Regions from separate parts of the Homo sapiens genome. Here regions 1, 2, 3 and 4 are each linked to region 5. Evidence: fine-mapped expression QTL. A gene starts in region 5. Each other region holds a variant in brackets. All regions are shown on one strand. Distances are from middle to middle.

Region 1 (5,130 bases), 110 kb before region 5:
CCACCATGCCCAGCTAATTTTGTATTTTTAATAGAGACGAGGTTTCTCCATGTTGGTCAGGCTGGTCTCGAACTCCCAACCTCAGGTGATCTGCGTGCCTTGGCCTCCCGAAGTGCTGGGATTACAGGCGTGAGCCACCGCGCCCGGCAGGATCTGATTTCTTAGTACCTGAGAGCAGGACAAGGGGCCAGCAGACCTAGGCTCTTGTCCAAGCTCTGTCACTGTTTAGCCTTGTGGCCCTGGGGAAGGCAGTTTCCTAATCTCAGTTTTGTCTTTTGTGAAACCAGTGGGAGGGACTAAGAGATTTCTGGAGGAGAATCCATCTCTAAATTCCATAATCCCTGATTTTCCCTTCCAAAACACTGCTGATAAACACGTTTACAGACCAAGTCTCTAGACCTGGAGATTAGTGAAACATAGTTCTCTGCCCTCAGTGAACTCGAAGTCAGGTGGAAAAGGCATGCTAGCTAAAAACAACTGCAGGTGCAATGTGACAGGTACAAGTAGAGATGGGTGCAAAGGATGTGGTGGCATTAAGGCGTCCAAGTAGGTGATGCTGGAGCTGGATCTTAAAAGATTGAGTAGGAGTTCACCAGGTGGATGGGGCCTGATGTGTTCAAGACAGAAGGAACTGCATGTACTAAGGCAGGAAGGTGTGAATCTGCATTGGAACTGCCCACTTGTCCACTGTTAGGCTGACAGTGACATTCGGGGAGTCTTTGCATTGACTGCTTCCTCTGCCCCCCCTTTAGAACAATCTGGTACTCCCTGGGTTGGGATGAGGGGACTTATGGTTGACGGCTCCATATGGCTTCCCTGCCCATGAAGTGCATCACCAAGGAGATGAGTGACTTGAGTAAGTCTCCCCTTCCACATGCCGGTATCTGTTCTCTGAATGAAAATCAGCGAAGCAGACTGAAACTGAGGGGCTGGCTCAAAGGGTCTGAAGGTGACCCATAACTCTTCAGCCTCGCCCACCATCAGGCCAGGTCAGAGGAGGAACGTGGCACTGTGCAAAATGGGGCCCAGTGGCTGACGTGGGCCGTCTCGGTTTGTTGGGCATCCTCCCCTGTGCAGCCAAAGCACGTGATCTGTCCTACAGCTGGGGTGGCCTGTTGTGGCTCCTTGGGGAGCTGTCCACGTCATCTGCAGAGAGATGAAATCAACCTGTCCCTTCTCCGTGAAGGACATCCTGCAACAGAAATGCACTTCCCCCAAACCCAGCTTCTCAATGTGGTCACTGTAGCTCTGGGCTGCAGCTCACATGCCTGGCTCTGCATACTCCAAAATACACAAGAACGGCAGAGGGGAGACGCATGCATCCAAGACATCATTAGCTGTGAGCAGCCTCATAGGCTGTGAGCCATGGGGTTAACCAGGCTCAGAGAAGGCCTGCAAAGCGGCAGTAAACATTCTGCTGGCTTGGCTTGGCTTGCTGCAACAATTTATATCCCAGGAAAAAAAGGGGCCAAAAGTCACGGAAATAACAGAAATGCTGAAGGAACTGGCACATTTGCCAGATGGTTCCTGGGGCACAATCGTATTTGCAGAGGGACAGTCTGCAGCGGAGGTCCTTTCATCAGAGAGCAAAGACTCTGGCTGACCGCTCATTCATTATCCCAGGACTCACTTGGAGGAGGGTGGTGGCTGGAGCACACCCACGCTTGTCCTTCCTTCCCGGAACCTTGAAGCTGTGGTTGCCTGAAGCTGAAGTGGCATTTGGGATTGGGCCTCTCCAAACACCCACAGCTCTGCTTCTTTAGACACCTGCCACCTGTGTCTCTTTTTCCCAACTTACACCAGCCAGTCCATTCTCCCAGCTGCCAGCTGTCATTTTCTCCTTAGTGCAACTGGTCAGATTTTAGTAAATAACACAGCTTGGGCTCTGACAATATGAATTCAGTTGTGCTGCCAGGGCCGAACTATGAGGCAGTAGGGACAAGGCTGGGACAGGCTAAGTGGGCTTGAAAATATGAATAACCCGGCTGGGCGCGGTGGCTCACGCCTGTAATCCCAGCACTTTGGGAGGCAGAGGCGGGCAGATCACGAGGTCAGGAGATCGAGACCATCCTGGCTAACACGGTGAAACCCCGTCTCCACTAAAAATACAAAAAAAAAATTAGCCGGGCATGGTGGCGGACGCCTGTAGTCCCATCTACTTGGGAGGCTGAGGCAGGAGAATGGCGTGAACCTGGGAGGCGGAGCTTGCAATGAGCCGAGATCGCGCCACTGCACTTCACCCTGGGCGACAGAGCGAGACTCCGTCTCAAAAAAAAAAAAAAGAAAAGAAAAGAAAAGAAAATATGAATAACTGGAAGGGCATTTAAAATTATTTGCTGCATTATCACAGAATTTTCAAGAACTCATTGCTTTGTCCTGGTATTGCATATGTCTGTGTTTGTCTTCCTCCATTAAACTAGAGACTTTTTTTTTTTTTTGAGACAGACTCTCGCTCTGTCACTCAGGCTGGAGTGCAGTGGCGCAATCTCAGCTCCCTGCAATCTCCACCTCCCAGGTTCAAGCAATTCTCCTGCCTCAACCTCCCAAGTAGCTGGAACTACAGGAGCATACTACCAAATCTGGCTAATTTTTTTGTATTTTTAGTAGAGATGGGGATTTACCATGTTGGCCAGGCTGATCTTGAACTGGTCTCAAATGATCCACCTGCTTCAGCCTCCCAAAGCCAGGATTCCAGGCATGAGCCACTGCGCCCAGCCTAAACTAGAGATTTTGAGCAGTAGGGAAGATGTCTGTCTTGGCTTTGCTACATTCTCCATGCGGATTGGTGGTTATAGCCTGAATCATGCTGTTGCCCCCAGAAACCTTGGTCATGGGGGTGATGGGGTGAGGGTGAGTGGACAGTCAACACAAAGGCATCACTACAAGCAGAGGCCCTATTCTTGGTGGTCAGTGCCTACCTCTGCATAAGGACAGTGTCATAGCAGCAGAGGGAGGCTGTGCGTGGTCAGCTACTTATTGAAAGGGTGCCCACCTATTAGAAGTTCTATAATTGTCCATTTATTGCAACTTCTGTGTTATATGATGACCTCCTTAAGGAAAGGATGTCTCTATAATCATCTTA[C/A]TTTCTCTACATCCTAGTACCATGCTTGTCAGTGTGGCATTGAGGGATTTGGTGGAAAACATACATATTTATCCATTTAGACTTCCATTTGCATCTGGCAGGATAACTTTCAGCAGGCTGGTTAACCTCAATGAGCCTCAGTTTCCTTGGATTTAAATGAGGCTAATATTACCCATCTTGTGAGGATGTAGGTAAAAAGGATGGGACAGTACTTGGCACAGAGTAGCTCTCAGTAAGCATCCGTTCCCCATTCCTTCCCCGCCCAGGATACTCAATACATGGAGTTGAATAAATGAATAAATTATTTCAGAGATGAATACACTTTGGCATCTTTCTTGGATATATTCACACTCCCCAAAGCCCAAATATTGCAGTTAAAAAAAAAACATCCAACGGCCGGGTGCGGTGGCTCATGCCTGTAATCTCAGCACTTTGGGAGGCCAAGGCGCGTGGATAGTTTGAGGTCAGGAGTTTGAGACCAGCCTGGCCAATGTGGTGAAGCCCCGTCTCTACTACAAATACAAAAGTTAGCCAGGCGTAGTGGTGAGCGCCTGTAGTCCCAGCTACTCGGGAGGCTGAGGCAGGAGAATCACTTGAGCCTGGGAGGCACAGGTTGCAATGAGCCAAGACTGCACCACTGCACTCCAGTTTGGGCGACAGAGTGAGACCCTGTCTGAAAAAAAAAAAAAAAAAAAAACAACTAGGTAACCGAATTTGCAGGAGGCAGCCATCCTACAGCAGGGGCTAAAATGGTTTCCAGCAGATGGAGAAGCACCTCTGTTGTTTTCTAAAGGGAAATACATGCCTGTAATCCCAGCACTTTGGGAGGCTGAGGTGGGAGGATCATTTGAGCCCAGGAGTTTGAGACCAGCCTGGGCAACATAGTGATACTCCATCCTGACAAATAAAAAATTTAAAAATTAGCTGGGCACAGTGGCAGGCACCTGTAGTCCCAGCTACTCAGAAGGTGGAGATGGGGGGATTGTCTGAGCCCAGGAGTTCAAGGCTGTAGTGAGCTGTGTTTGCACCACGGCACTCCAGCCTGGGTAACACAGTAAGACCTTGTCTCAAAAAATAAACAAATACATAAAATAAAATAATGCAAAGAAACTACATCAGGAAACACGACTAGACGTGGTGGATCACGCCTGTAATCCCAGCACTTTGAGAGGCCGAGGCGGGTGGATCACCTGAAGTAAGGAGTTCGAGACCAGCCTGGGCAACATGCGGAAAGCCCGTCTCTACTAAAAATACTAATATCAGCCGGGTGTGGTCGCGGGCGCCTGTAATCCCGGCCACTTGGGAGGCTGAGTAACGATAATCGCTTGAACCCAGGAGGCAGTTGTTGCTGTGAGCTGAGATGGCGCCACTGCACTCCTGCCTGGGCGACAAGACCAAGACTCCATCTCAAAAAAAAAGAAAAAGAAAAAGAAAGAAACTACATCAGGAAACAATGCCACAGGACCTTGTGTTTGACCTCTTTTATTTCTCTGCTTGATACAGAAAGCACCCAGTTGGTACCTAATAAATGCACACTAAAGGCTTTGCCTCCTTAGAGGTGCTGGAGTAGCAAGACTGGCTGGGCGCCACATGAAGTCCTGGAGCCACAGTGTCCTCTAGTGGGAAAATGAGGCCATAGCACCCCACAGAGCTGACAGACACACAGTGCGGTGCCAGAGCTGGGCAGTTTCCCTAAAGTGACCTGGATTAGTCTCAGTGCAGGCGCCAGGGCAGACTTCCAGGGCTGTTTTCATGCCTAGAAAACAAAAAACAAACAAACAATACACTTTACAGGACGTGTTTTTCTGCACGTATTACTCAGAAAGCCATTGCAGCCACATTTGTTCCTTAAAATTAATTGTCAGTCAATTTGCGGGTCTAGGCGATAATGATAGGCTAGCATCACAGAAAGAAACCAGATATTTGCTGCCTCTGATGGAAGTATACAGCACCCCCTAAGTATTTTTGCTACAGAATTGAACGTGAATCTGTTCAAGTCTCTAGATCCAATTCACAGGAAATACATTGGTCATTAATGAATAAATATA
Region 2 (5,130 bases), 100 kb before region 5:
TTTTATTCTTTTCTTTTCCTCAAGACAGGGTCTTGCTCTGTCACCCAGGCACAATCATAGCTCACTGCTGGCCCCAATAGCTTTAAAAAGTGAATTCCAACCAGGTGCACAATGGCTTATGCCTGTAATCCCAGCACTTTGGGAGGCTGAGGCAGGAGGACTGCTTTAACTCAGGAATTTGAGCCTGGGCAATCTAGCAAGACCTCACCTCTTCTAAAAATTTTTTAAAATTCGTCAGGTGTGGTGGCATGTGCCTGTAGTCCCAGCTTCTTGGGAGGCTGAGGTGGGAGGAGTGCTTGAGCCTGAGAGGGCGAGGCTGCAGTGAACTATGATCGTGTCACTGTACTCCCTGCTGGGCAAGAGTGAAACCCCACCTCAAAAAAAAAAAAATTCCATCTCAAACTGGTCATTCTAAGTTCTTTCAACAATGTTATTTATTTCTATGTTATTTTAATCTATTTTTGAAATTAAATTTTATTATCAAAGAGTAATACTTGCTCAAATAAAATCCAAAAGGTACAGAAAACAAATCTCTCTCCCACCTGTCCCCAGCCCTCCTCCTTGAGGCCAGTTTATTGTATGTCCTCTGAGAGGTAGTCTATGCATAACTGCATATTTATCCCTCCTCCCTTTTTTATTAATTAATTAATTAATTTATTTATTTTTGAGACAGAGTCTCGCTCTGTTGCCCAGGCCGGAGTGCAGTGTTGCGATCTTGGCTCACCGCAAGCTCCACCTCCCGGGTTCAGGCCATTCTCCTGCCTCAGCCTCCCAAGTAGCTGGGACTACAGGTGCCCGCCACCACATCTGGCTAATTTTTTGTGTTTCTTTAGTAGAGACGGGGTTTCACTGTGTGAGTCAGGATGGTCTCAATCTCCTGACCTTGTGATCCACCCGCCTTGGCCTCCCAAAGTGCTGGGATTACAGGCGTGAGCCACCGCGCCTGGCTCCCTCCTCCCTTTTTAAAACTGCAAATAGTATCCAGACTTACCTAGCGTTCTGCATCATGCTGTTGTCACTGAAGATACATCTTGGAGATTGCTTCATATCAGTACATACAGCACTGACACATTAGTTTTCATAACTGCCATGACATCATAGTCCTAAAACATGTTCACAGAGTCCTTGATACTTCTCCTTTCAAGAGGTGGCTCGATTCCCCTCCCCAAACATGTGTGCTGGACTTAGTGACATGCTTCTATAGAACAGAATATGGCAGAAGCAATGATGTGTGCCCTCTGAGACTAGGTCAAACAAGACAGTGCAGCTTCCTCCTGTTTTCTATGTCTTGGGTCACTTGCTCCAGGGTCAGCCAACTGCCATGTCATTCAAGCAGCGCTGTGAAGAGAGGCCCATGTGGTGAGGAGCTGAGGCCTCCTGCCAATGGCTAATGTGCTATCTTGGAAAGGGATCTCCCAGCCCCAGTCAAGCCTTCAGGTGACTGCAGCCCTGGTTGACAGTCTGAATACAATCTAATTAGTGACCTGGAGCCAGAATCACCCAGCTAAATTGCTCCCAAATTCCTGACCCACAGAGACTGTGAGATAACATGTTTATTTTAAGCTGCCAAGTTTTGGAATAATTTGTCATGCAGCTATATATATGATATATGATATATATGATATATGATATATCATATATCATATATGATATATCATATATTATATATTATATATATAATTTTTATATAATATATATCATAATATTATATATATTATATATATAAAATATATTTTTTTGAGATAGGGTCTTGCTGTGTCACTCAGGCTAGAGAGCAGTGGCACAATCTCAACTCACTGCAACCTCTGCTTCCTCAGCTCATGAGATCCTCTCACCTCAGCCCCCTGAGTAGCTGGGACTACAGGCGTGCAGTCCCATACCCGGCTAATTTTTTAACTTTTTGTAGAGATGGATAGAGACCATGTTGCTCAGGCTGGTCTCGAACTCCTGGGCTCAAGTGATCCACCCGCTTTGGCCTCCCAAAGTGCTGGGATTCCAGGTGTGAGCCACCACACCCCGCCAGCAATAGATAATTAAGATGCATGTTTAAGATAAATGTGTCCTATCTCCTCCATCATCCCATTTCAATAGGAAAAGCCCTTGGCCAGCCATAAAGCGTGTCATGAA[C/T]ATGAGGTACAACGCTTCCTATCCCATTTTCTCTCCCCAGCTTTCTGATGGCAACCAGCGCATACCTCTGAGTTTGTTCAAACCTGTTGCTCTCCAGTAACACAGTGTGGTCTGTGGGTCTTTGAGCCAAGTCTGTGCTGGCCCATCTCATATGCTCCCAGTTGATGACTTCCCCCAGAGATGTTGGTGTTTTCATCAGTACTTCCACCAGCAATTCTCTGGGTCGGTGTCAGAACCATGTAATAATAAGTTTTTGAAATGTTCAGGAAGTGAAGTCAGCTAAGAAACAAATTTGGCTTTATGAGCCCTTTCCCATCTCCACTGATCTGGGCAGGCCTCCCTGCAGTGTGGAGAGGACCTGTCAACTATATCCTGAGAATAAAGATTTCTTTTTTTAAAAAAAAATCTCATCTTTTCCCTGGAGTGGAAAGGCAGCTAATAGCATTCAGATATTTTGAGATGAAACTGTTACCATGGGAATGTTTCCATATCTCTCCCTTAATAATGATGGGTAGAAACAATGAACAGTACAGCTCTTAGAATTCTAGAGATAAAGGAAATAAGGGGGGAAAAATGAGAGCTGGAAAAACAGATCCCCCTAAAGGACTGCTTATCTCACTCAGAACTCTGCTCTGGTGCTCTCTAGGTGAATGTGGGGAGTTTGTAGGTCAGCGGTTTTTCTCCAAGGGTCAGGGTTCCCATATAGGAAGGAGATCAGTGATCCTGAGGTGGGTGGGGTGTGATTCTTCAGTAATTGCTGGTAAGGGGGTGAAGCTGGTCTGTCCTTCTGAGGCTCTGTGTGCAGGGTAGGGAGTGGAGGAGGAAAACTGAAGAGCTAACAAATTCAGATGCTTCTAAATACTTCTCCGTCTTTGTCCTGGCAAGAGGTCAAAGCACTTGAGGAACTCCTCCTCCCTAGGGCCTCAGACTGTACCCTGAAAGTAGAAGCATGCTGGCACACATTTTCATCTTGTAGTTCCAGAATTTCCTGTGCTGGACTGTCCTCTACAAGGGCTCAGGGATAATTTCTTAACCAGGAAGGCATCTCCTCCTCCATCCACTGTTTGAAGCACTGTAGGGGTCCCCTCAGGTCATTGTCAGCTGAGCTCCTGTTTCTCTAGGGCTTTGAGAAATCAAAGGACAAATGACTTGTTAATGAGCAAAATAATTTATCTCCTGTGACAGGCATTTTACCTTGTCTGCCATAGCCTCATACTCTCTCTCGGAAGGATTTATTTGCCTTTGTTGTTTTTACTTTTTGAGAAGGGTCATCCAAATAGAGCCATCCTGCCTATAAAATGAATGGGAATCCAACCCATTAGCTGAGAATTTAAGAACTCGTGTTGAATGTGTCAGGATAGGCAGATTGGGTATCCCCTTATTGTAAGCACCCCTTAAATCTCTCAAAGATGAAAGAAATGGATACCATCCCACCAAGCACCCCTGCACACTGTGAACTCACCTAAGGTGAGAACTGCCTGCTCACCGAAATCTTTATCTGTCAATTCCCCGCCTCCACCCCTGACCTAAGTTTGCTTGGAATGTCAGCATCTAGGGATTTCTTTTTGTTCTTGAGATCTTTAGTTAAAATACAACATAAGCAGCACTTGAACTGTTTCTTGGTGGTAGCAGCTGAAAGCTAATCTTTATAGGAATGTAGCTTAAGGAGCAGAAACCGTATTGGGTTGGGTGAACAACTAGAGAACTAAGTGTCTTCTTTCTCTGAAGCATCTACTGAAGCAATACATATGGTTGTCCCTGTCTCTCACACCCTCCGGAACCCGCATTTTCTGTTCTAAAATTTGTGATCCACAAAGAGAAAAGCAGTTTAAACATTTGATCTAGCATAAATATAAGCTCAGCAGAGGGAGCGCGGCAAGAGGTTCTAAACATAGGTGGCTCCACAGCACAGAGAAACCAGCCAGGAGACACCCAGGCAAGCGTCCTTGGCTGACTTCCCAGGTCCCTTGGCTTTGGGCTTTCCATGGTCCTGACCACATAAGGAAGGCTCTCTCTGCCAGTGACAGGCATCTCCCAATTCTTTCTCGCTGACTGCTGCGCTAGTAGGTCCTCTTCATTTGGGCTTGGGAGGTCATTTTTGGCAAACAGTAACTCTCACTCCCAAAACGTGGATCCTAAAATGTGGAAGAATCCTGATGACAATGTAAGATGCTACAGCTGCACCTGGCTGGTGGCAGAGTTATAATCTGGTACATGTTTCAGCTGCCACTTACACATAACAGGTGAGCACAGCGTTCATGCTGCTTGAAATGAACACCTATTCTGTTCCAAGCACATTATTACACAGCATATTTTTTCAAATTCAGCTGTACTTTGACAGTTTTTATAGAAAGTATGTGTCTCAATTTTTACATACCAAACTGGAGGAAATTTATCCAGTGAAGTGATTACTGATCTCCAGCCCCAGAAGCGTGAGGCACACAGGTACCTGAATTCTTTCAGGCCAAATGAAACTAACTAAATATTCTTTATGTATGAATTGTTATGGGGCAAGGTGAACACCACCTCCTCCATAAAAGCTTTCTGGGAGCTCCTCAACAGCAGAAAATCTCCCCTCTGCTTGAATTCCCATTGCATTTGTTTTTTTTTTTTTTTTTTTTTGAGATGGAGTCTCGCTCTTTCGCCCAGGCTGTAGAGCAATGGCGCGATCTCGACTCACTGCAACCTCCACCTCCCAGGTTCAAGCGATTCTCCTGCCTCCTCAGCCTCCCGAGTAGCTGGGATTACAGGCATCTGCCATCATGCCCGGCTAATTTTTGTATTTTTGTCGAGATGGGGTTTCACCATGTTGGCCAGGCTGGTCTTGAACTCCAGACCTCAGGTGATCCACCTGCCTCGGCCTCCAAAGGTGCAGGGATTACAGGCGTGAGCCACCGCGCCTGGCCTGCACTTGATTTTATCTCTTATAGGTCTTATTTTTCTACCTATAGTAGATGCTTATTTACATATTACCTCTCCCTATTGTATTGGAAGATCTTTGAA
Region 3 (5,130 bases), 66 kb after region 5:
AGTCTCCCAGAAGCCCTGAACTCTTGAACAACCCCAAATGCTAAACTCAGCAGTAAAATGGCTGGTGGCTCCTACCTGAGGGTTCACAGAGGGGCTGCCTGTGCTTGCCTCCCAGCCCTTCCTTCCTGCATCCCAGCCCTTTCTTCCTGTGTATTAAGAGGGTTGCAGCTACTTCAGGGCCAGTGTCTCCACGAGTCATCATGACGGCTTCCTGATCATGGCTCTCTCTCTCTCTTTTTTTTTTTAAGACGAAGTCTCGCTCTGTCGCCCAGGCTGGAGTGCAGTGGCATGATCTCGGCTCACTGCAAGCTCCGCCTCCTGGGTTCACGCCATTCTCCTGCCTCAGCCTCCCTAGTAGCTGGGACTAGAGGCATGCACCACCACGCTCAGCTAATTTTTTTTGTATTTTTAGTATAGACGGGGTTTTACTATGTTAGCCAGGATGGTCTTGATCTCCTGATCTCGTGATCAGCCCGCCTCAGCCTCCCAAAATGCTGGGATTACAGACATGAGCCACCGCACCCGGCCGCCTCTCTCTTTTACTAACCACAGGGATTCAGAAAATTCTTCCTCCCTCGGGGCAAAAAAAAAAAAATAAATAAAAAATCATATATTATAGATGAACTGATGTAGTTTGGATCTGTTTCCCTGCCAAATCTCATGTTGAACTGTAATTCCCAATATTGGAGGTGGGGCTTGGTGGGAGGGGATTGGATCATGGGGGCGGATCCCTCATGAATGGCTTAGCGCCATCTCTTTGGTGCTGTCCACACAATTGTGAGTGAGTTCTTTGGAGAATTAGTTGTTTTGTTTGTTTGTTTTTTGAGATGGATTCTCGCTCTGTCACCCAGGCTGGAGTGCAGTGGTGCAATCTCAGCTCACTGCAACCTCCACCTCCTGGATTCAAGCGATTCTCCTGCCTCAGCCGCCTGAGTAGCCAGGATTATAGGCCTGCGCCACTGCGGCCAGCTAATTTTTTTGTATTTTTAGTAAAGATGGGGTTTCACTGTGTTGGTCAGGGTGGTCTCGAACTCCTGACCTCAAATGATCCACCTGCCTTGGCCTCCCAAAGTGTTGGGATTACAGGCTTGAGCCACTGCACCTGGCCTGGAGATCTGGTTGTTTAAGTGTGTGGCACCTCCCCTCCACCCCACTCTCTCTCCTGCTCCTGCTTTTGCCATGTGAAGTTCCTGCTTCACCTTCTGCCATGAGTTAAAGCTCCCTGAGATCTTTCCAGAAGCCAAGCAGATGCCAGCACTGTGCTTGTACAGCCCGCAGAACTGTGAGTCAATTAAGCCTCTTTTCTTTATAAATTACCCATTCTAGCCAGGTGTGATGGCTCACGTCTGTAATCCCAGCACTTTGGGAGGCCGAGGCAGGCGGATCACTTGAGGTTAGAAGTTTGAGACCAGCCTGGCAAACATGGTGAAACCCCATCTTTACTAAAAATACAAAAATTAGCCCGGTGTGGTGGCACACACTTGTAATCACAGCTACTTGGGAGGCTGAGGCAGGAGAATCGCTTGAACCCGGGAGGAGGAGGTTGCAGTGAGCCAAGATCGTGCCACTGCACTCTAGCCTAGGTAACAGAGTGAGACTCCATCTCAAATAAAATAAAATAAAGTGAAATAAAGTAAAATAAATAAAATAAAATGTACCCATTCTTTGATATTTCTTTACAGCAAATTTACCCATATAGGCAACGGCCTAATACATGAACCCTCTCAACCCCCATCCCAGTTCCCTCCTTACAGAAGCTACTGCTGTCTGTTTGGAGTGTATCCTTACAGACCTTTTTCTAAATGTTTACATACACCTATACCAGCTATATAAACACACTATTGATTTTGTGGGATATCTTAGTTTGGGTCCTCCCAAAGGCAGAGACCCTGAGACAAAGATTTGCAGGGGTAAGTTGTTGACCTGGGAGCAGATCCCAGGAAATAGCAACAGGGAAGCTGGGAAGTGAGAAAGGAATGACAGGTTGTGATTTGCAAAGATTGTCAGCCCTGGTATTGATCGTATTGCATAGGCTCTTCTTACAAAGTGCTGGTGCTCCTCTCGTGAGAGGCGGGGTGTATTAGTTCCTTCTCACACTGTTATGAAGAAATGCCTGAAACTGGGTAATTTATAAAGAAAAGAGGCTTAATTGGCTCATGGTTCTGTGGGCTGTACAGGAAACATAGCTGGGGAGGCCTCAGAAAACTTACAATCATGGTGGAAGGCCAAGGGGAAACATGGCTGGAGAAGGAGCAAGAGAAAGAGCAGGGAGGTACTATACACTTTTAAACAACCAGATCTTGTAAGAACTCACTCACTATCACAAGAGCAGCAAGGGAGGACTCTGACCCCATGATGCAATCACCTCCCACCTGGCCCTTCCTCCAACACCAGGGATTACAATTCAACATAAGATTTGGGTGGGGGGGGATACAAATGCAAACCATATCACAGGACCTGTGTTCCCACCTCCTAAACCTGGGTGGGACTTGTGACTGCCTGGCAAATTCTAAAGTTTTTTGTAGAGGTGGGGTCTTGCTGTGTTGTCCAGGCTGGTCTCCTTGGCCTCCCAAAGTGCTGGGATTGCAGGTGTGAGCCAACATGCCTGGTCCAATTTAGATTTTTTTTTTAAGATGGAGTCTTGCTGTGTTGCCCAGGCTGGAATATAGTGGCACCATCTCGGCTCACTGCAAGCTCTACCTCCTGGGTTCAAGCAATTATCCCTGCCTCAGCCTCTCAAGTAGCTGGGATTACAGGTGCCTGCCACCATGCCCAGCTAATTTTTGTATTTTTAGTAGAGATGGAGTTTCGCCACATTGGCCAGGCTGGTCTCGAACTCCTGATCTCAGGTGATCCACCCACCTCCGTCTCTTAAAGTGCTGGGATTACAGGCACGAGCCACTGCACCCGGCCCCAATTTAGATTTTAAAGAAATTACTAAGGCTGCTAAACCTTATGTTGCTCTTAGCCCCAAGGGCGCTGAGAGTTGGGTTTTCCCAATCCCAGGCTTCCTGGGTATAGCTCAGACCACCCTTAAGTTTTCCACCCATGCTCCCTCATCCATTCTTTCTTCCCTTCTACAAATTTTCCCCTTCTCTGTTGGCCAGGAACATTTATGCAATAATGTCACACCAGTGACTACCAGAGCTGAATGC[C/T]GATAGAGTAACAGAATGCTAAGATGGACATTTCAACCAGGCAGACACAACGACTAGCAATGGAAGCCAGACCACAGTGAAGATCTTTTCTTTTCTCTTTTCTTTCCTTTTCTTTTTTTTCTTTCTTTCTTTTCTTTCTTTCTCTTTCTCTCTCTCTCTCTCTCTCCCTCCCTCCCTCCCTTTTTCTCTCTCTCTTTCTTTCCTTTCTTTCTTTTTTTTTTTTGAGACAGAGTCTCACTCTGTTGCCCAGGCTGGAGTGCAGTGGCGCAATCTCGGCTCACTGCAAGCTTGGCTCACTGCAACCTCCGCCTCCCAGGTTCACTCCATTCTCCTGCCTCAGCCTCCTGAGTAGCTGGCACTACAGGCGCCCGCCACCGCGCCCGGCTAACTTTTTGCATTTTTAGTAGAGACGGGGTTTCACCGTGTTAGCCAGGATGGTCTCGATCTCCTGACCTCATGATCTGCTCGCCTCGGCCTCCCAAAGTGCTGGGATTACAGGCGTGAGCCACTGCGCCCAGCCCTTCCTTCCTTCCTTCCTTCCTCTTTCTTTCTCCTTCCCTCCCTCCCTCTCTCCTTCCTTCCTTCTCTCTCTCTCTTTTTTTTTTTTTTTGAGACAGTCTTGCTCTGTCACTAGGTAATCTTGGCTCACTGCAACCTCTGCCTCCCAGGTTCATGCCATTCTCCTGCCTCAGCCTCCTGAGTAGCTGGGACTACAGGTGCGCACCACCACACCCGGCTAATTTTTGTGTTGTTAGTAGAGATGAGGTGTCACCATGTTGGCCAGGCTGGTCTCAAACTCCTGACCTTGTGATCTGCCCACCTTGGCCTCCCAAAATGCTGGGATTACAGGTGTGAGCCACCGTGCCCAGCCTCTTTCTTTTTTTTTTGACAGAGTCTTGCTCTGTTGCCCAGGCTGGAGTGCAATGGCACAATCTTGGCTCACTGCAACTTCCCCCTCCTGGATTCAAGCGATTCTCCTGCTTCAGGCCCTCAAGTAGCTGGGATTACAGGTGCGTGCCACCACGCCCAGCTAATTTCATATTTTTAGTAGAGTTGGGATTTCACCATGTTAGGCTGGTCACAAACTCCTGACCTCAAGTGATCCACCCGCCTTGGCCTCCCAATGTGCTGGGATTACAGGTATGAGCTACCACATCTGATCCCTAATTTTTATTTTTAATTGACAAGTAATTGCATACGTTTATGGACTATGATATGATGTTTCAATACTGTATATATTATAAAGCAGGTCACGCTAATGAACATATCCATCACCTCACATACTTATTTCTTTGTAGCAAGAACAGTTTGTTTTTTTAGAGACAGGTTCTGTAAAATATTGCCCAGGCTGGTTTTGAACACCTGGGCTGAAGTGATCCTCCCATCTCAGCCTCCCAAAGTGCTGGGATTACACATGTGAGCTACCGCACCAGACCCTATAGGGAGACCATTTAAAATCCACTCATTTCACAAGTTTGAAAATACATTATGGGGCGGGGCGCAGTCACTCACGCCTGTAATCCCAGCACTTTGGGAGGCCGAGGCAGGTGGATCATGAGGTCACGAGTTCAAGACCAGCCTGGCCAAGATGGTGAAACCCTGTCTCTACTAAAAATATAAAAATTAGCCAGGCGTGGTGGCGGGCGCCTGTAGTCCCAGCTCCTCAGGAGGCTGAGGCAGAGAATTGCTTGAACCTGGGAGGTGGAGGTTGCCTTGAGCTGAGATTGTGCCACTGCACTCCAGCCTGGGCAACAGAAAGAGACTCTGTCTCAAAAAAAAAAAAAGAAAGAAAAAGAAAAAAATATACATTATGATTAGCTATAGCCACCTTGCTGTGCAACAGATCACCAGCACTTACTCTTCCTACTGGAAACTTTGTATCCTTTGGGCCACATGTTTTCTGCGACCCCAGACTCTAGTAAGCACTGTTCTACTCTCTACTTCTGTGAATGTGACTTTTTTTTTTTAGATTCTG
Region 4 (5,000 bases), 47 kb before region 5:
TTCATCTTTAGGAGGGATTCATTTTTCTAGTCACAGAAAGAAGAACTGTTTATTTATTTATATCTTCCCTCATTCCATAGAGGATATGAACTGACTTTTAAAACTACTAAGGACTTTCCCCTCAACTTCTGATTTCTGATCATCAGACTTCTGGTAGCAGAATGAGATTTGTTTTGATCTTTCCCCTGTGTGTATGTTAAAGCTGGGAAATAAAATACGCTTATTCACAAACAAGTGGCAAAATTATCACTGGTTAATAAGTGTAAAAAATTTTTACTAACTTCCTAGTATAAGAATTATTTATACTTTAAAAAGAATTTTGCCTTTTGTGACTCTAAAACTTTTATGACTAATGCTGCTGGAAATATATTCTGACAATTTCCTTCATTTTTGTTTTATGATTCATCATGGATAGAATAAATATATGACTATTTTAAAATAAGGCCCACATGCTTCTACACTGTATAACCACTATAGGGTAATCACTATCAACAATTTTGAGAATAAAACTTCAAGGAGAGCTCTGACTTTTGTCTAAGCTTGGAGATAGATCTTTATTTAGATCATCTAAATCAGAGAAATGAGATGTCAAGGTGAGGAAATATAAACTTATTAACTTACAAAATGGTAATGATGACAGCTTTGATCATGCTATCAAACTCAAATGCAGAAAAGAAATTCTTTAAAAAATAGGAAAGAAAATAATTATCTTCCAAACATACACAGTTAACCCCTTCTATTCTTGTTTTAAATGGGGTCTCTGGGAGAGTAATTTGATATAGTGAGAAAAAGATAAAACTTAAGATACAAAGAGAAAGAAACGAGAAAAAGAAGTCAAACATTTAGAAAGCATTTGAGGCTGGGCGCGGTGGCTCACACTTATAATCCCAGCACTTTGGGAGGCCGAGGAGTGCAGATCACCTGAGATCAAGAGTTCGAGACCAGCCTGGCTAACATGGCGAAACCCTGTCTCTACTAAAAATACAAAAGTTAGCTGGGTGTGGTGGCATGTGCCTGTAGTCCCAGTACTTGGGAGGCTGAGGCAGGAGAATCGCTTGAACCCGGGAGGCAGAGGTTGCAGTGAGCCGATATTCCATCACTGCACTCCAGTCTGGGAGACAAAGAAAGACTCCGTCTCAAAAAAAAGAAAGCATCTGACGGGGCTTCCCTTATAAAAGAGTACTAAATGGACTATAACATCTATAATCACACATGATTTATTCTTTAAAATAATGAATGGTAAGATAATGCTTCTATAAATGTGATCCTGTTAGTCATTAAAGATTAATAAAAACTACATTGTTATATTTTATTTACTCTCCTTTTAAAAAAGTTTAATAATTTAAATGTTTCCAAAAGAAGCAATAGCAAGAATATACAAAACAGAACCTAATCTTTTATTTTGTCTAAGTGATTTTTCCTCACATAATAAAGGGATACATTTTCAAAAAGTAATTTTAAGAAAAATAAACAATGCACTTTTCTCCTTTTTTTTTTGAGACAGAATCTTGCTCTGTCGCCTAGGCTGGAGTGCAGTTGTGCGATCTTGGCTCACTGCAACCTCTGCCTCCCAGGTTCAAGCGATTCTCCTGCCTCAGTCTCCCGAGTAGCTGGGTCTATAGGCACCTGCCACCATGCCCAGCTAATTTTTCACATTTTTAGTAGAGACGGGGTTTCACCATGTTAGCCAGGATGGTCTCGATCTCCTAACCTCATGATCTGCCTGCCTCGGCCCCCCAAAGTGCTGGGATTACAGGCATGATCCATTGCGCCCGGCCAACGATGCACTTTTCATTAAAGCTTGAAATGCAAAGCTAAAGAGCTCTAAGGTATTGGCCCAATGTCATATTTAAAAACTAACCACCTGAAAATGTAACACCAAAAAAGGACTACTAAAAAGTATTAAAAATTCTACTTAATAAAGCTATAAAAAATTATGGTATTTGGCTGGGCGTGGTGGCTCACACACTTTCGGGAAGCCAAGGCGAGCAAATTACTTGAGGCCAGGAGTTTGAGACCAGGCTAGCCCCATCTCTACTAAAAATACAAAAATTAGCCAGGCATGGTGGTGCATCCCTGTAATCCCAGCTACTTGGGAGGCTGAGGCAGGAGAATCATGTGAACCTGGGAGGCGGAGGTTGCAGTGAGCTGAGATCGTGCCATTGCACTCCACCCTGGGAGACAGAGACTCCATCTCAAAAAAAAAAAAAAAAAAGAAAAGAAAAGAAAAGATATTGTTGTTGTCTAAATAAAAGATTCCGTTATAGGCAATTTAAAGTTTGCACTTGTGTAAAACAAGGTATAGTTTAAAAGTTGAAAATTTTACCTCTCACTCAGGTCCACCTAAGAACTGAGTAACAGATGGTGGTAGATATTTTACTCTTGTGGGATGGGGGTGGGGATGAGGGATTAACAGATTAGCAGAACTAATAACAGGCCCGAGAACAAAGTAACAATTAAAAAACTGAGAACAAACTAATAGAGGGGATTTCATATACTGCTAGGCTAAGGCCTCAGAGGTAAATTCTTGTAAGAGTTCCCACAGTATTAAGACTGTTTCCCAAATTTCCTGTATCATAAATACAACACCTAGCTGAATCAGAATGGAATCTATGTGTTTTTTTGTTGTTTTTTGTTTTGTTTTTTTCTTGAGGTGGGGTCTCCTCGCTCTGTCGCCCAGGCTGGAGTGCAGTGGCACGATCTCGGCTCACTGCAAGCTCCGTCTCCTGGGTTCATGCCATTCTCCTGCCTCAGCCTCCTAAGTAGCTAGGGCTACAGGTGCCCGCCACCACGCCCAGCTAATTTTTTTGTATTTTTAGTAGAGACGGGGTTTCACCATCTTAGCCAGGATGGTCTCGATATCCTACCTCATGATCCACCCGCCTTGGCCTCCCAAAGTGCTGGGATTACATGCGTGAACCACTTTGCCCGGCCAGAATCTATGTTTTTAACAAGTAACACTTAGTGACTATTACGATGAGGTAAGTTTGGGAAATACTGGATTCGGAGTAAATTAGAAAGAAGAATCCTAACTAAGGAAAAGTAAACCAGGAATAAGAGTAAACTAGCACCAGATTAAGGGATAACTCAAATTAATTATTTATACCAGGAGTTG[G/T]CACATTTTCTGTAAAGGACCACATAGCAAATATTTTAGGCTTTGGGGCCAACAGGCAAAATCAAGCATGTCATGTAGGTACTTACATAGTAAGAAAGAAATCAAACTTCTACAAAGTTTTTTTGACAAAACTCAAAATATAACTGAGTACAGTTTTGCAATACAGATTTATTAATGAGAAGAATGAAATTCTTTTTGGAAGGAAAACATTTTGCTTTGTTGGGGTTTGAAGTTAGTGTTGTCCACCATGAAAATTAATTGCAAATGTTTATATGTTAATGCTGATCTGTAATGAGATTTTACATGTCCCATCTTTGAAAATGTCTCTTTGCACAAATATATACTGCCAATACTGGTACATATCCACAAACCTATGACTTTATAGAGCACAAGGTATTTATAAAATTATATTTGATTATTTTCTTGATGTTTGCCTTTTAGCATGTCATTACACTGCAGATTAATCAATTCCAATTGAAGGTTAATGGAAACTCAATTGCATAGTTAAGTGGATTACAAAATATGGAAATTTCCTTTGCATTTGCATCAAGGTCTAAAAAGATGATGCTGGAACTGTAATTTGAACCTGGAATATTTATCTGCTTTCCCATCTAAAAAACACTTTATTATTCTTTTCATGCTTTGGCATGATGAGTATGCAATGAATATAAATAAAAGGTCCTGGTAGAGTGATATACATAGTACTTGAAATGCTGTCTAGTGTGTCAGCGCAATTAGTAGTGCACTCAGCAGCAGTGAGAAGAGATGAGAGTAGCACATATAAGCTCTATTGAAACTATTAAACTTTGCCTTTGCAGCACACAAACAGCCACAGATAACATAAAAGAATGACCATGGCTATGTTACAATCAAACTTTATTTTTATGAAATGATAAAATTTGAATGTAATATAATTTTCACCTATCACAAAATATTATTTGACTTTTTTCAATCATTTAAAAATATATGGCCAGGCACAGTGGTTCACACCTGTAATCCCTGCACTTTGAAAGGCCAAGGCAGGCAGATCACCTAAGGTCAGGAGTTCGAGACCAGCCTGGCCAACATGGTGAAACCCCGTCTCTACCAAAAATACAAAAATTAGCTGGATGTGGTGGCACATGCCCGTAGTCCCAGCTACTTGGGAGGCTGAGGCAGGAGAATCACCTGAACCCAGTGAGCTGAGATCACACCACTGCACTCCAACGTGGGCAACAGAGCGAGACTCCATCTCAAATAAATAAATAAATAAAAATATAAAATGTTTCCTTAGTGTACAGACTGTGAAAATAGGTGGTAGGCCATGAGTCATTGCTAACCACTCACTTATACTATAAACTTTTCCTGAAAGATATCTGCAACTTTTTATTCTTAAAAACAATACCTCTCCCGACAAACAGAATCAAAGCAATCACCTCAAGCTGGGTGTGGTGGTGTGGTGACTCACACCTGTAATCCCAGCTACTCAGGAGGCTGAGGCAGGAGGAGGCCAGGAGTTCAAGACCAGCCTGGGCAATATAGCAAGGACCTGTTTCTTTCTTTCTTTTTTTGAGACAGAGTCTCAATCTGTAGCCCAGGCTGGAGTGCAGTGGTGCAATCTCAGCTCACTGCAACCTCCACCTCCCAGATTCAAATGATTCTCGTGCCTCAGCCTCCCGAGTAGCTGGGATTACAGGTATGCGCCAATATGCCCAGCTAACTTTTGTATTTTTAGTAGAGACAGGGTTTTGCCACGTTGGCCACGCTGGTCTCGAACTCCTGGCTTCAAGTGATCCCCCTGCCTCAGCCTCCCAAAGTGCTGGGATTACAGGCATGAGCCACTGCACCCGGCCCCCGCTTCTTAAAATAAAAATTACCTTTAATAATAATTTAAAAAAAGACAACC
Region 5 (5,122 bases):
AATTTTTTGTAGAGACAGGATCTCACTACATTGCCCAGGTTGGTCTCAAACTCCTTGGCCTCAAGTGATCCTCCTGCCTCAGCCTCCCAGAGTGCTTGGAATACAGGTATAAGCCACCTCACCCAGCTGTGTGGGAGCATTATTAAAGGTTTTTTTTCAGACAGAGTCTTGCTCTGCTGCCCAGGCTGGCATGTCTCAGCTCACTGCAACCTCCTCCTCCAGGGTTCAAGTGATTCTCCTGCTTCAGCCTCCAGAGTAGCTGGGACTACAGGTGTGTGCCACCACACCCGGCTAATTTTCGTATTTTTAGTAGAGACGGGGTTTCACCATGTTGGCCAGGCTCGTCTCGAACTCCTGACCTCAAGTGATCTGCCTGCCTTGGCCTCCCAAAGTGCTGGGATTACAGGCATGAGCCACAGTGCCTGTAATCCCAGGCACTGCACTCCAGCCTCGGTGACAGAGCGAGACTCTGTCTCAAAACAACAACAACAACAAACTATTTCATCATATATTTAAGGATCAGTTTTTTAAGCAAGTCGTCTACTCACTTTCCCTACCTTGCTCCAAAAGCATAAGCATGAATTATATGTTAAATAACACCTTCCTGAACCTTGTCAAGGAAGTCCATGAAAAATACAGATTAAGATATAGTTATAAATAAAAATAAAAATTTACAACTGCAAATCAAAAAGTAAACTATGGCTGGCTAAGCTTACTCCTAAATTCTAATTCTAAAGGAAGATTTCTCCAAACAGCAGGTGGATGAAATTTCAATGAACTCAAAGAACACTACAGAAGAGGGTAAAAACGTGTTAACTTTCTTCCTTGGGATTCCATCACGGTGACCCTGAGGGGTTACCAAGAATGAAATAATGGTTTAAAACAGAATGCTTCGAAACAGCAATGGCAGACTATTAACGAATGTATTAACTCTTTAAAACAAACAATCCAGTTATCCCTGGCCCACTTTCTTATTTTAGTCCTAGCAACTGAGTTACATAACTTGCAGAGTGAAATCAAGAAGTCCCCGCTGTTGCGTCCTCATGTCAGTGAACAGAGGGAACTCTCCTTTATTATATTTTCAAAAGGTGAAATGTATGAAATTTCTGGGTGGGGGGAGATATCAAATGTCTGTGTGCCTGTGGTTATTAATAAGTTAACTACGAAGTAACTATGGAATAAATAATGCTTAAAAAGAGGGCAAAGATTACGCTTTAGGGTAACAACAATTGGACCCTCCCCAGATAATTCTAATTCATTGAGCGCTTGCATAACTCGAAGTTGAGTAAAAATTTTTGATGAAATATCTCGAGTACGAGGAGTTAGTCCAATGCAAAGTACAAGTACTGCTAAAAAGGATCCGGCCCTTTCCACTACTCATATCTTAATGTCAATACATAGAGAGAGTGAAGACTGCGAGTGCCAAAAAAATGCAGAAACCTGACCTTGCCCACAAGTCGAATAGTTCTGCACCCCTCCCCCAGCTTCCCCGGGAGCCGGTTCACGCAATCCCTATTGGTCAGTCTGCTTATTCCAGCACCTGCCTGGCAGTGATAAGGGAATCTCCAGAAGACAAGAAGGTCTGAAAGGAGGCGGCCTGGGAAACTGTGAGGCCCAGAAGGACAGGGTTCGAAGAGGAAAAGGAGGAGAGAAGCTTCGGAGGGATGAGGTCGGGCGGTTAGGGCTAATAGGGACATGGCTTGGGAGGACGGCTGGGGAACAGGGAAAGGAGATCTCTGGAGGGCCCAGGTGAGGTGACAGGGTGAGGGCCGCCGGCGGCCAGCCAAAAGAGAAGAGTGAAGGGGCTGGAAGGCCTAGGAACGCGGAGAAAGGCGAGCGGAGCTGTGAGGCGCGAGAAGGGCCGGGGCTGCAAAGGTTGGGGCTGCAGGGGCGACAGGGGCGACAGGGGCTGCAGGGGCAGGGAGGGCAGGGACTCAGGGGCCGGCCAGAGGGTGCGGACTCACGTTCTCCCACCAGCAGGATCCGCACGTCTTTCTTCATGTCGGCGGCTCTCGGGGGCCGGCCTCCGCCCGCACGCACGGAGTGGACTCCTCTCACCAGGAGCACCCACCCCACGGCGCCACCTGCCAGCCTCTTCGGCCGCCGGGGCCCGCCGCGCCGCCCCCTCAGTTGCTTCCCCGCAAGAGAGCCGGGACAGCGCCAGCTCCGCCTCCTCCGGCCCAGCGGGCTGTGGCGGCGGCGGCGGCGGCGGCGGCGGCGGCGGCGGCGGCGGCGGCGGCGGGGACGACGGCACGCGGCGAGGGACACGCGCTTTCGGAACGCGAACGCGCTCTGCGCCGGAACAGCGCTCCCGCTGTCAGGCCGCCGCAGCGCAGGCCCAGGGAGCCTCGCCCACCCTCCTTTGGGCACCGCGACCCCGGAGACACTTGGGCCAGGAATTTGAATGGCGGATTCCCTGGTTTAACCCCGTTTATTTTATAGATAGGGACAGAAATTCCCTGTTCAAAGTCACATAGCTAGAGCTTGGCAGTGACTCAGAGCAGGGATCTTCTCACCAGACCATAAACTCCGGGAGGGCAGCGATCAGCTTGCATGGTTTTCAGCTGCGTCCCCACGTTATTGGATAGGGCCGTCAGAAAATGCTTGATCGAGTAGGGCGACTGGCTCCCAGGATCCGGCGCTTTCCACTCCCCAAAGCCCGTCACCCTAGTTGCTTTTGCCTCTGATGCTTATAAAATACGATTATAAGATTCGTTTTTACGCTGTGTGAACAAGACTCCTTTCTTTATAACCAAACTAAGTGACTTTTTTTCTGTCTATGTAGTTTATTTTATGGCAGGGTTTTCGGACACTCTTCTTTACTCAGGCTTACCCAGCGTAATGCTAGACACGGAGGTGGCACTCGATAATAAACTCTAGATGATTTTTCTAACATTGCCTTAATTTTCTCGTGACCCTCTCCATCTGGAGGAATTTGTTGTTACATGCTTAATGTTTGGTACACAATGGCAAATATATATATATACATACGCGTGCGAATATATATCACATCCCTAATACTTGGCACACAGTGGGAAATATAAAATACATAAATTAATGAGGAAGCACTATCTGTGCATAATGTACATTTTTTCTATCTTAAATATTACACAATAAACACTTAAAGGGAATGAAATGTGCGTAATACCAACTTCCCTTTCTCCTAGGAGAAGTCATGTGGTCTCTTGCAGCAGTTAAGAGTTGCTGGCAAATTTCCTGGGTTTGAATCTAGGCTCCACATAATAGCTCTGTGATCTCGACTAAGTGCTTTTATTTTTACTTCCCTCAGCCACTGTTCCTTCTTCTGTAGCATGGAAATAATGATGATAATACCTTCCTCTTGAGATGGTTGTGAGTAATAAATACTATAATACTTGTCAAGCATTTGGTACAGTGCCAGACTCAGAGCGTGTGCTCTACTGATCTCAGCTATCATTATTATATTAAAAAGTCACTAAAAAGTTGTAATCCACAGATTTTTTGTTTTGTTTTGGTTTTGTTTTGAGACGGAGTCTCGCTCTGTCGCCCAGGCTGGAGTGCAGTGGCGCAATCTCGGCTCACTGCAAGCTCCGCCTCCTGGGTTCACGCCATTCTCCTGCCTCAGCCTCCCGAGTAGCTGGGACTACAGGCGTCCGCCACCACGCCCGGCTAATTTTTTTTTTTTTTTTTTTGTATTTTTAGTGGAGACGGGGTTTCACCGTGTTAGCCAGGATGGTCTCGATCTCCTGACGTCGTGATCCGCCTGCCTTGGCCTCCCAAAGTGCTGGGATTACAGGCGTGAGCCACCGCGCCCAGCCTAATCCACAGGTTTTGAGGCAAATATGTTGTTGTGTTTACTGCAGAATTTCACCATCTTAGTTATTTGATGTCCATAAGGAGCACAGGGGAGAAAGCCCTTTCAAAAACAACTCTATCCCTGTCCGTGTTAGGAAAAAGAGGGAGATGGGAAAGACATACTCCTTGTTCACTGAGAGATAATGAAGTCGCGTTCCTGGGTAGATGTAAATAAGGTGCTTTCATCTCCCTCCTCCCCCCACACCTCAATGAGTGGAAATGTGAAATTCAGGAGGCTTGGTTACCTGATCTTTCAGGGAAAAGTAGCCCTCAGAATTTTAGTGTTACAAAATGTTTGAGTTGGAAGAACCCTGACAGAGCTCCTATTCCAATCCCGTTACTCTGTAGATAAAAAAAAAAAAGCAAGGCCCACAGAGACGCAATGACCTGGCACAGACGGCATGGCTGAGGCTGAGCTTTGCTCTGCCATTCCTAGTGCATGACTCTAGGCAACTCATGTCACCTAGTTGTGCCTCAGTTTCCTCTCTACCAAGTGAAGGCTGTGATCTCTTATGAAATTGTTTGGAGGAGCTCATAAAATAATGTATTTTATGTGAATAATGTAATGAATTGTAAATCTTTTTCCTAAAAAACAAACAAACAAAAAACAAGTTACACAAATATCAGAGCACAGAGGACAAAAGCCTTTTACAGAGGGGCAAATTCTTTAGGGCACTGCTTGCACCATGCAGCTTTGTGAAGAATCTAGATCCCTAAGAGCTCTCAATCAGCGTTGCCAGTTAATGACAATGTTGACTCATTGGGGCTTCTCCAGGAGGGTGAGCAGTAACAAGGTCTTCGTGGGGTTGTAGATGTGTACTGGGTAATGTCTGGTAGGCAGGGGCTTGGAAAAAGCATTTATTTAGAGGGACATCACAGATACAATATTGCAAAGAACTCCTTTGTAAATAAAACTTACTTAAAAATCCATATCCAGCCAGGTATGGTGGTTCAACACCTATAATCCCAAAGCTTGGGGTAGCTGCGGTGGGAGGATCTCTTGAGGCCAGGAGTGCAAGACCAGCCTGAGAAACATTGAAACCCCATCTCTACAAAAAATAAACAAATTAGCTGGGCGTGGTGGCATGCACCTGTAGTCCCAGTTGGGAGGCTGAGGTGGGAGGATCACTGGAGACCAGGAGTTGGAGGCTGCAGTGAGCTATGATGGCACCATTGCACTCAAGTCTGGGTGACAGAGCCAGAGTCTGTCTCTAAATAAAAAAAAATAAAAATCTGACTAGGCCGGGCACAATAGCTCACACCTGTAATCCTAGCACCTTGGGAGGCC

What was found. PIP is the estimated chance that this variant, and not a neighbour inherited with it, causes the effect.
Region 1: its variant is fine-mapped to the expression of RHOT1 in whole blood (TOPMed, PIP above 0.99).
Region 2: its variant is fine-mapped to the expression of RHOT1 in whole blood (INTERVAL, PIP above 0.99).
Region 3: its variant is fine-mapped to the expression of RHOT1 in blood mononuclear cells (TOPMed, PIP above 0.99). The same link has a PIP of 0.9 or more in aorta, tibial artery and transverse colon.
Region 4: its variant is fine-mapped to the expression of RHOT1 in blood mononuclear cells (TOPMed, PIP 0.96). The same link has a PIP of 0.9 or more in whole blood.

What each region holds. Positions count from the first base shown.
Region 1 is chr17:32,252,793-32,257,922 of GRCh38, reverse strand. It overlaps LOC124903979 (a long non-coding RNA gene), which reads right to left. Exons shown (of 2, transcript XR_007065709.1): 2 at 4,549-4,838. Among named protein-coding and RNA genes, the nearest start is that of RHBDL3, 10 kb to the left of the region's middle. The variant C/A (reference allele first, on the strand shown) is at 3,083.
Region 2 is chr17:32,239,915-32,245,044 of GRCh38, reverse strand. LOC124903979 (a long non-coding RNA gene) reads right to left here and starts at 1,561. Exons shown (of 2, transcript XR_007065709.1): 1 at 992-1,561. RefSeq lists a silencer at 3,961-4,255. The variant C/T (reference allele first, on the strand shown) is at 2,128.
Region 3 is chr17:32,073,339-32,078,468 of GRCh38, reverse strand. No RefSeq gene overlaps it. Among named protein-coding and RNA genes, the nearest start is that of VILMIR, 7.1 kb to the left of the region's middle. The variant C/T (reference allele first, on the strand shown) is at 3,156.
Region 4 is chr17:32,186,952-32,191,951 of GRCh38, reverse strand. The region is part of intron 8 of RHOT1 (ras homolog family member T1); the gene reads right to left. Among named protein-coding and RNA genes, the nearest start is that of RHOT1, 47 kb to the right of the region's middle. The variant G/T (reference allele first, on the strand shown) is at 3,116.
Region 5 is chr17:32,139,572-32,144,693 of GRCh38, reverse strand. RHOT1 (ras homolog family member T1) reads right to left here and starts at 2,192. Exons shown (of 20, transcript NM_001033566.3): 1 at 1,965-2,192. The coding sequence starts at 2,001. LOC105371730 (a long non-coding RNA gene) reads left to right here and starts at 1,559. Exons shown (of 2, transcript NR_136413.1): 1 at 1,559-1,669; 2 at 1,981-3,468. RefSeq lists silencers at 1,912-1,971, 2,002-2,231 and an enhancer at 2,692-2,861.